Regions from separate parts of the Homo sapiens genome. Here region 2 is linked to region 1. Evidence: fine-mapped expression QTL. A gene starts in region 1. The other region holds a variant in brackets. All regions are shown on one strand. Distances are between the middles of the regions.

Region 1 (5,340 bases):
AACTGCTGCTAAAGAAATAACATGGGTTTTTACCATCACCCTGGGAATTAGGAAAAAAAAGAAAAAAAACCCACAGATTTTGATGAGACACAAATAGTAGCCACAGAGGTCACTTACTAACTGATTCTGAAAAAAAGGCTTTGAAGCTATTCATTACACACATTCAATTCAAATCAATAAACACTACTACCATGTTCCCAATACTCAACCAGGAACTGGGGATCTCAAGATGAAAAAACATGATCGGCTGGGTGTGGTGGCTCACACCTATAATCCCAGCACTTTGGGAGACTGAGGTGGGAGAATCATGTGAGCCCAGGAGTTCGAAACAAGCCTGGCAGCATAATGAGACGTCGTCTCTGCAAAAAATCAAAAAAATTAGCTGGGTGTGGTAGTGCGTGCCTGTAGTCTTAGCTACTCGGGAGGCTGAGGTAGGGATGATTTTGAGCCCAGGAGGTGGAGGCTGCAGTGAGCTGTGATCACACCCCTGCACTGCAGCCTGGGAGACAGAGTGAGACCCATTTCACAAGAAAGAAAGGAAAAAAAAGAAGGAAGGAAGGGAGGGAGCGAGGGAATGAGGGAAAGAGAAAGAGAGAAAGAAAAGAAAGAAAGAAAGAAAGAAAGAGAGAGAGAGAGAGAGAAAGAAAGAGAGAAAGAAAGAAAGAAGAAAAGAGAGAGAAAGGAAGGAAGGAAGGAAGGAAGGAAAAAAAAAATATGATCCTTGCTCTGAATGAATGGACCACGAATGGTGGAAGACAGGCCTGTGATGATGACGATGATGTCATAGAAATGAAGGAACTGTTTCATGGCAAGGAGAGAGTCACACTGACCTTAAGGATAAATAAGTAACATTTGAGATGGGACTTAAAGGATTAGGATTTTTTCAAAGTTAGGATTTTTTAAGTGGAAAATGTAAGGAAGGGCATTCCAGAAGTAGAGAATAGCATGAATAAAATCAAGAAGGTAAGAAAGTAAATGGCTTGTGTGGAGAATAACAAGCAGCCACTCATGAGGCTGAAACATACACTACAGCTCTAAGGAAGGGCTGGACTTGCCCATGGACCACCAACGATCCACAGCCTGGGTTCTATAGGCCGCGGCTGCCATCAGACATATGGGAGACAACTGGTCCAAAAATTTTGACCACTGAACATGGCAGCAGCTTCCATCATAAAGAGGGTTATAATTGCCAAGCAGAATGAGAACATTATAATTAGATCTAGTTCTTCCATTTATTCTCTTGCATTAAATGTATTAATTTGTTGAATTAGCTGCTAGGCATTCTGGTAAATATCAAGAACATAGAGCCAACTCCACTGCAGACCCTGTCCTTGAGGAGCCTAATAACTGGAGATTTCATTTATGGATTTATGGATTTATTAGGCCTCCTAAAAATCTGCTATTCACTTACCGATAGCAAAGAAAATTATTTTTAAATTTTAAATAATATTTTCTTATTACAAAAGCACTTCATGAGCATCATAGAATATGGAACCAGCCAAAACAAAAAATAAAATATCTCTGTCACCACCCAGAGATCACCACTGTAACCCTTGGTTCATATTCTCCTCCCACATCTTCATATGCATACATACATATTAATCTGTATTTTGAGGACATGTTTTTCATTTTGTCTACAGACACATCCCGTCTTGTAACCAGCTTTTAAAAAAGACAATAATTTCCACGTTTCCATGTGAATAACTACTCTTCTAATACTCAGTACATATTCAAATTTCTCCAAATGAACCAAAAATGTCCTTTACGCTTATTTCTCCAAGTTGGCCCCCAACTCAAGCCCTTGCAATGTGTCTCTTGGTTATATTCTTCGGGTTCCTTTTAATCTGGCATAGGCCCTTTCATAGGACTCTGACTCGACAAAGAGAACTGGCCAGCTGTCCTGAAGGAAGGCCCACTTCCTGTATTTGCCTGGTTCCCTGTGGTGTCATTTTACTTGCTCCTCAATTCCCCTTACTTCCTGTAAACATCAAACTCAAGATGCCATAGAGGCAAGTTAACCACCTTGGGCTAGAATACTTCATGGGCGATAGCACGTACTTTACATTGCATCACATAGGAATCCACATAATACCTGGTTGACGCAACATCAGTCCAACTGACCACAAAGCAACTAGGGGTTTCAGAGGGAGTACACGTAAGGGGCAAAAGCAGCAACGGAATACGACAACGGAATAAGCATGAATACGACCTGGCTACCTGAAGGAGGTAGGACGGGGAACCGAGCAGCAGCAGGTGGTGGAATGCCAGGGAAATCCAACCGTGCTTCCCACGCTGGCATCGCTCTGATTATGACCAATCCTCTAATCTTATTCTCACAATTAGGGAGGAAGAAAAAAAAACAAACCCAAACCAAAAAAGAAGTTGGTAGGTGACTCTGTGAGACTACTGTTTTATAAAGGGAGCGTTTCCTTTTATAAAATTTAGCTGAGCAGATGCTAGGCAGCCCACAGGAGGCCACTATTCCCCTCAGCTGTACAGTTTGGGAAAATACCTACACACCCGGAGAACAGAGAGCTTGGTGTGTGTTGAGTTCGCTCCTGTTCATCAGCAGCCCTTTCCCCGCCTCTGGCCACCAGGGGGACCTGCAACCAAGTATGTGTTCTTTCAGGCGAGCGGGAACGCGTCTGCATAAATCTAGTCCAATCCAGGGCCCCGTAGCAAGGCGCCAAAGCTGGGGGAAGCGCATTTCTGTTCTCTCGCGAGCACGACGCGGTGCCTCCCAGTCCTCCTCCGGCCCTCCCTCTCCGCCCTCCCGGCCCGCGAGCGCTCGGGCCCCTTCCAGTGGCTCGCGGCAGGTGGCGCTGTCTGCGGCGTCGCAGCGGCCCGGGCTGCAGCAGAGACGATCTCCCGGCGGGCTGTGCGGCCCGGCTCTCCGGCGGCAGCGAGTGCCACGTCCCAAGTGCTACGCGGAGGATTAGAGCAGGCGGTGCGCTGGGGGCGGGAGCAGCGCGGAGCCCGGCTCGGCCACACCGATCGCCCGCCGCCATGGGCTCCTCGCAAAGCGTCGAGATCCCGGGCGGGGGCACCGAGGGCTACCACGTTCTGCGGGTAAGGGCTCCGACGGCGGCCGGGGAGCTGCGGGCTGGAGGCGGGGCCGGCCGCGGGGAGGCGGAGGCCCCCATGGGCTCCTTCACGGGGCAGCCAGGCCCGATCCCGCGAAGGAGCGGCGGTCGCGGGCGCTGCCTTGGTCGAGGCTGGTTCCGGAGGCCGCTCGCATCCCACCTCCGCGGAGCGCCCTGGGCACGGGGTCCGCGGCTGTAGGAGGACGGGCTGGAGCTGGAGGCGGCTGCCGGCGACTCGGCCAGGGGGCGGCCCTGGGAAGGGGGGACAACCTTGCTCTTTTTCCGCACGGCCTTCTCTCTCCTCCACCCCCCCTCATTTTTAGCTTCCAAAGTTAGGAAGGGCGCGGAGGCAACGTCTCCAAAGTGGTGACTGTGAAGGCAGCCTTTGCGCTTTCCTAGGAGAGGGATCCGGACCCGCAGTCCGGAGGCGGGGCCTGCGGCGGCAGGTGTTAAATCACCTCGGCGCCGGCCGAGTGGCCTGAAAGACCAGCAGGGCAGGAGACGGAAAACCAAATGGCCTGGAAGTAGGTTCGACGGACTTAAACAGACTTGATTTTGACCAGACTTTTCCTTTCCCGTGCCACTCCTGACCCTCCCAAACCTTCTCAAGATTTCCTGGAGTGGGAACTTCCGTTCTGTTCCGATTGCTGAGGGTGTGGTTTAGATTATAAGGTTTAGATCCACAGTGGTAAAGAGGTAGTGCAGAGAAATTTTTTTTAAAAATCGGAGTATATAAAGGAAAACAACCCTAGCTTAACTTCCAGGACGCAGAGAAACATAGTATCTCAAAAGGCGTCAGCTAAGCCCCTACCTATGAACGGCCTGGGCCTGGGTGGTACAAAGCATGTGGTCTTTTCCTCATGGAACCGGGCGACTTTAGAAGTAGCATTGATGGTTGTTTGCTGTGACACCTGTGTGAGTGTTAACATGAACAGTCAACAGAGTGGCCGCAGCGTGTAGCGCCATTTAGGGGTGTAATAGAGTGTCACTCAATATTAGCTCCTCACAGGCAAGAACGTTTTCACTGAAAGTAAGAGAGTGCACTTCCTGGTGCTACCTTCATTTCCTGCCCTGGGTCCCATGTTTTAGGTGAGACACATTCTTAAATTGCCCAGCTGTCTATGTGATAGGGCTGAGACAGATCATCTTTCTGATCTTCCGGATTATCGTGTCTATTGCCTTTCCATTACACTAAAAATCCCTCCTCTGCCATACTCTTAGTAGGAAAGGGTGATTTTTTTTTTCCCCGAAAGGAAAAGGGAGCCTATAAATAAACCGTATTATCTTCCTATCCCCTTCTGCTAACCAAACACCCAAGAGCCACACTGAGAGAGGAAATGGAAGGAGAATTGTCAGTTCCCAAATGTGAGGTGAAAGCTGTGCTTTTCTTTCTATTATCTGGTCTGATTTTGAGTTCTCTACCCTGGGATGTTACCCAGTATTACCAGCTGTTTCTCACAGTGACCGATTGTGGTCATGAATCCTTGGGGATTCATGATATTTTTATAATACATGCACTCAGGGAAACTCAGTAAAACACATTAGTGTTAATAAGCAAAAAAAAAAAAAAAAAGTCGCGTGTTTGAAAGAAAGCCATACACATCAAAAGGATTCCAACTTAGTGACTGCATTCCGACATAAAATGAGTTTGTATTTTCTTTATGTAAGTGCAGTCAAGTGAAACAGCATTCATACATATTCAGTAGTGCAGATGTGTTATTAATCTATACATCTGATTTTTAGAAAAACTAGGGACAACCTTAGTTACCAATCTGCATCTGGAGCATTAATGTTGCACACGATGAAATAATTCTTATTTAGTTAGACTTTTACTAAAGAGAGCTTTAAAATAGTAATGATCTAGTTTAGGAGAATTTTGTGTCTGCCTTCCTAAGACCCTCTGCCCCTGATTCTGTAATTGGTTTTCTTATCTTTGTTTTTAGAGGGAAAAGTGCTGTGTTAAATCTTAACATGTAAAAATGTCTTCCTTTCATTTGTTATTGCCTAAATGGACAGCGATATATTTCATTGTTAGATTACCAAGCTTGTAAACTGGAGTAACTGTGGCAGGAAAATTTTGAATAAAATCACCCATATTCAACAAGTTCTAGAACGATTTAATTAGAAGTTAGTTTTCTTGAATAACCAATTCCCTGGCCAATCTTGTTGTAGTAAAAACTTAATATGATTGACTGGGTTTTGAAATACCAATTATAATAACATTTATATCCACTGCTGTCTTTTGATTTCATGAGTC
Region 2 (5,385 bases), 200 kb after region 1:
GTTCTCTTTATTAAAAAAATTTCAATCTCAGCCTTTAGCTCAAACAATTGTGAAAATATACTTTACCACTTCTAAGCCAGTCAGGATATTTGTCCTGTTTCTAACAAAAATTAATGCAGCTGATGCTAGTTAAGTCCAAAAGAGCAAACTGACTTCACAGTTGACAGTACTGATTCAGTAACACACATGGATAGATGGAAATATTTTCTGCAAAGTATCTGCCAATGAATAACAATGAATAACCATAAACTATGAACTCCTCAGTTTTACAAGCTTTGTAAATTACTCCAACTAAGCCTTTTGCTGCTCCGTATGTATTCTATCACCACCGCTTGCAGCACATCCTTACAGATTCCACTTCAGATTGTACTTAGTGTTTTCTCAGCTTTGAAAATATTCTTGCCTGTAGTTGTTCTGCACAGGCTATTCAGAGGCCAACTTTTCTGCCACTTCAAACTTGGAATTGACTCCTTGAATAAAGAACAACTGAATTGTATCAATAACATCTGCCGGCTCATCAAGAGCCGAGAAAAACCACTCCAAATCATTTGCCTTGTTTTTTAATTGACTAGTGATGTTGCTTCAAATGTCCTCAACTCTTAAATCAACTGTGCTTGCCAAAAAGCTAATAGCCTAAAACAAGTTTATTTTCTCTGGACATAATTTTTTTGACTGCTTCAATAAAATACAATTTAATTAACTCAACATCAGTAAATGGCTTTCCTTGCTTGGCAAACAAATAAGCCACTTGGAAACTTATTTTGGTGGCAGCCTCATTTTCATTTTTATGAAGAAATTATGCTGTGATGAGATATTCCATTTTTAAGTTTTGTAATTTTTCTATTGCTTTCCTCAGAGTTGGACATAGTGTAGTATATGATTAGTCTAGTTACTTTCATGTATACTGTATTCCTCTATTGCAGCTCTAGTGTCACTTCATAATAAGAGCAATGTTTTGCTATTAAATTCAATAACAAAATAACCCACACTCCAATGTGCCTTAAAAGCACGTCTATATTTTTCTCTTCTTTCCTTTTTTTGACATGATGGATACACAGTGGTAATAAATAAACAAATAAAATAAAAAATTGCAATCTGGTCACAGATGTGGCACTCAAAACACCGTCAAGCAATAATGGCAGCACTGAAATTTGTGGTACACCAAACAGTAGCTTGAAGTAATGAGAATGCCATATACAGTTTCTGTCAAAACTCCTCAGCTCTGCCATTATAAAGCAAAAGCAGCTGTGTTCCAATAAGACTTTATTTATAAATAGAAAATGAAATTCAAATTTCACATGTCACAAAGAATTATTTATTTTTTATTTCAACAGGTTTTGGGGGAACAGGTAGTGATTGGTTACATGAATAAGTTCTTTAGCGGTGATTTCTGAGATTTTGGTGCACCCATCACCTGAAAGAATTATTCTTTTTTGATGTTTTTAGCCATGTAAAAATAGGTAAGTTTGCTTACTCCTGTTCTAGAAAACACACTTCAAAGATTTCAATCTTTTATGGACTCAAACTGTCATTTTTGACCCTTAACAAAAAATTCTGTCCTCAAGAGGGAAATTTTCTGGAAAAAAAGTAAATTCACTATAATCCATCAAATTCTTTATTACAATAAATGTTTATAATTTTGAAAAGGAAGAAATTACAAAAGCCACTATAAAGATCATACCATTCTTAAAGAATAGCCCATTTCAAAGCACAACCACCTGTCTTTTAATTATGCTACTCTTCTTACTATCCTGTTTCCCAAAATTTACAAATGTAAATCCAAAACATCACATAAAACATATAACAAGGAATGTCACTACCCAAATTAGAGATCAATCACATTCAATATGATGAAGAAAAATTTTAGGGAACATAAAGAACACAATCCGACCCATTAGTTTGTCATGTTTCATTTTAATAAACATGTTTTCTCTCTCTCCCTGTCTTTAAACACACACTCTCATAAACTCAATAAATGTTGATTACTGTAGAAGTATGGGCTCCCAAGGATCCAAGGATGATATATTAGAACATATTACTAGTTCTGGTTAGTCAACATCACTTTATATGATAGTTATATCACCTGTATTTATGACAAGGAATCATTTTTTCATTATATAATTTTTTAGTTGCCTTAAGTCTTAATCTTCCTTGACGACAGTCATAATAAAATCAAATGCCTAGAATGCAGGTTTTTAAAAGGTTAATACCAGTTACCAAAAAGGTGAAAAAGAGTTTTTTCACTAAGAGCTTTCTAATAGTAGATTCAATTGCTGCTGAGCCATGACCTTAGTTTTAAATTTAAAACTTCCTGAAGTCTAAAAATATTTTAATTCACTCGAGATTTTAACTGCTACTTTTCATATTACACTTGATAAGCTGATTTATAGAGAACAGTTAAAGCTTTTCTTCTATTAATACTTTACATATTATACTAGATAAGGCAGAGGTTCCTTTTATTAAAAATAAACACTATGACAACGAAATTATTTCTCCAAGATAAAATATTCCACTTAAATAATTCCTTTTCATTAGTTTTTTTTAATGCACTCAAAAGTATCGAAAGCAAAAGAATTCAAAAGTCTGGGCTGGGCACGGTGGCTCACGCCTGTAATCCCAGCACTTTGGGAGGCTGAGGTGAGTGGATCACCTGAGGTCAGGAGATCAAGACCAGCCTGGTAAACATGGTGAAACCCCAATTCTACTAAAAAATACAAAAATTAGCCAGGCGTGGTGGTGCACACCTGTGATCCCAGCGACTCAGGAGGCTGAGGCACGAGAATCACTTGAACCCGGGAGGCGGAGGTTGCAGTGAGCTGAGATCATGTCACTGCACTCCAGCCTGGCCAACAGAGTGAGACTCCCGTCTCAAAAAAAAAAA[AAAAAG/A]AAAGAAAAAATTCAAGAAGTCTATATTGTATAACACTGGAATTACTTCTGAATCTTGTCTTGAAACATCCATTTTAACATGGTTAATAAATAGAACATACCTATTTTCATTGACAATATTTTGTACCATATTTAGCTATAACTTTTGTTGGCTATACTATGTTGCATTATTTATTCCACAGTTTGATTCCCTACTTTAAAACCAAATATTCTAATTTTTTGGCAGTTAAATGAACATGTTAGTTAAATGAGCTATCACAAAACCAGCCCAATTTCTTTTTCTAACCCTTCCCTCACATGAATTCAATAAACCCATTTCCTACATTTTTTTCTAATGATTTCAAATATTAACATTTAGAACATTAATCCATTTAGAATTATATATAGATATATATCTAATTTTTTTCCAAAGGAAAATGTCCCAATTTCTCACCAATTCAAACTTTTCCCACTAATTTAAAATACCTCTCTGGTTATCACATTCCATAAACATCGGTCTGTTTTGTACTTTATTCACTAAATAGTTTCACTAAACTATTTATCTGTTTCTGAGTCATATTATCTATCCATCTATCTACATATATAGATATATATGTACTGCACATACACACATAAACACAGACACACACTTTCCGAAGATTTCACCCAAATGTCTGACAACAGTAAGTATAGAAAGTCAGGTCCCTGAATCTAGGTATACATGTTCAATTATATAACCCTGTGGTAGAGAAGACAGGTCTAATCTAGAATCATTCCAAGTCAGAGTAATGCTTCACCTAATCTTTTTAATATAATTGGTCTTTTTAAACACTTTTGTTGCAACCCTTACAGCAAAGAATTCAAATACTCTGAGACCAAATAATTCATATAAGGAGATATGGCTTGCATCAGAGTTACTAAAGCATAGGGTTTCTGCTTCTCTCTACTGCCATGACCTTAAAAAATGAAAATAATTTAAATTTCAATTTTATTCTTACTAATAAAAAAATCTGACAACTAATTTTTCTTTCATCAAAAACATACGTAGGTCGATAAGTTGTGTAAAGTTTGGTCAAGTTCTTTAATCTCTCTCTATTTTAGCTTCCTTATATAGAAAATGGAGATAATAAAAGTACATACCTTATAGAGTTGTTAAAGTAAAATAAGTTTCTATGAATAGTTTTGAACTAAATCTGTCACTTAGAAAGCATTCAATAAATGTGAACATATATGTATGCTAAAATATAAGTGCTCAATAAATATTAGCATATATAATGTAATAAGCCCCCTTCTAGCTTTCTTCCTGGGGTTAGAAGTTCCTGCTAAGTATAATAGGATTACATATACTTCCGTGCCTAATTTCTTTATGCTAATATAGTAGTAACACAACTAACCAAGTTCCTCTTCCTCTAGCCTCAAACTTGTGACAATCTGCTATTTTTAAAATCAATCTCTCACATTGTGTATATACATGTACATGTATATATATATACACATACATACAAATGTATATACACATACTCACATATAGATGTATTTTATACTAGACTGCATTTCTGTATTAACATATAGTCCTGATTTTAAAAATAAAGAAATTGAGACACTGAAAGGTTAAGTTATACTGCCTTTTGTTATAGTTTATATCCACTCAACTAAGCATCTCTGTCCCAAAAGAAGGGTCCAGAGGAAGAGTATGTGTGTGTGTGTGTGTATGTGTGTGTGCACGTGTCCGTGTCAGAGACACAGAGAAAAACAGAGCATGTACTTGATCCTGCAGTAAGAAGGAATGTTCTCTAAGAAAACTCCAAAACAGGAATCTGGTAAAACTTGAGCTGGTAATTACCCTCTCCTCACTACCAGAAAGTAGACTGGTATCTTGTCTCTAACCTAAGTACTCAAGACTCTTTTTTGGTTTCATCCCTTTCCCTCATTACTAAGTAATAGGTGCTTCTTGAAATAAATACAAAAATATAAAAGTAAAAAGTCCCAATACCTCCTTGTCTCCAAATCCCACTCCTGAGAGGTAACCAATTGTTATGAACCTTAAAAAGGACAGTGATGATTTACTGCTCCACAGTACTCCTTCTTGGCCTATTCTTCTATCCCAATAATACAGGGTGAAAGAAGGGCCACAGAACAGTTTTTCTTTCTTAAAGTCCCTTTACAGCAGGTAAGTAGATCCCTGACCAAAAAGGAGGCTGCAAGTACTTTTTGTAAGAAGTCCAAGTTGAATACGATCTACCTATTAAAGCACAACTGAAAACAATGAATGAAAATCAACAAGGGGCCAGGAGTGGTGTCTCACATCTGTAATCCCAGCACTTTGAAGGCCAAGGCAGGCAGGTCCTTTGTGCCCAGGAGTTCGAGACCAGCCTGGGCAACCTGAAGAGACCCCATCTCTACAAAAAAATTTAAAAAATTATCCAGGCATGGTAGTCCGCACCTATAGTCCCAGGCTGAGGTGGGAAGATCACTTGAGCCCAGGAAGTAGAGGCTGTGGTAGTAAGCTGTGAAATGCTG

Evidence for each region.
Region 2: its variant is fine-mapped to the expression of GORASP2 in whole blood (INTERVAL, PIP 0.96).

Annotation. Positions count from the first base shown.
Region 1 is chr2:170,926,335-170,931,674 of GRCh38, forward strand. GORASP2 (golgi reassembly stacking protein 2) reads left to right here and starts at 2,919. Exons shown (of 10, transcript NM_015530.5): 1 at 2,919-3,069. The coding sequence starts at 3,007. RefSeq lists a silencer at 2,698-3,397.
Region 2 is chr2:171,124,408-171,129,792 of GRCh38, forward strand. The region is part of intron 1 of TLK1 (tousled like kinase 1); the gene reads right to left. It overlaps LOC124906092, which reads right to left. Exons shown (of 1, transcript XM_047446755.1): 1 at 1-5,385. Among named protein-coding and RNA genes, the nearest start is that of TLK1, 34 kb to the right of the region's middle. The variant AAAAAG/A (reference allele first, on the strand shown) is at 2,882.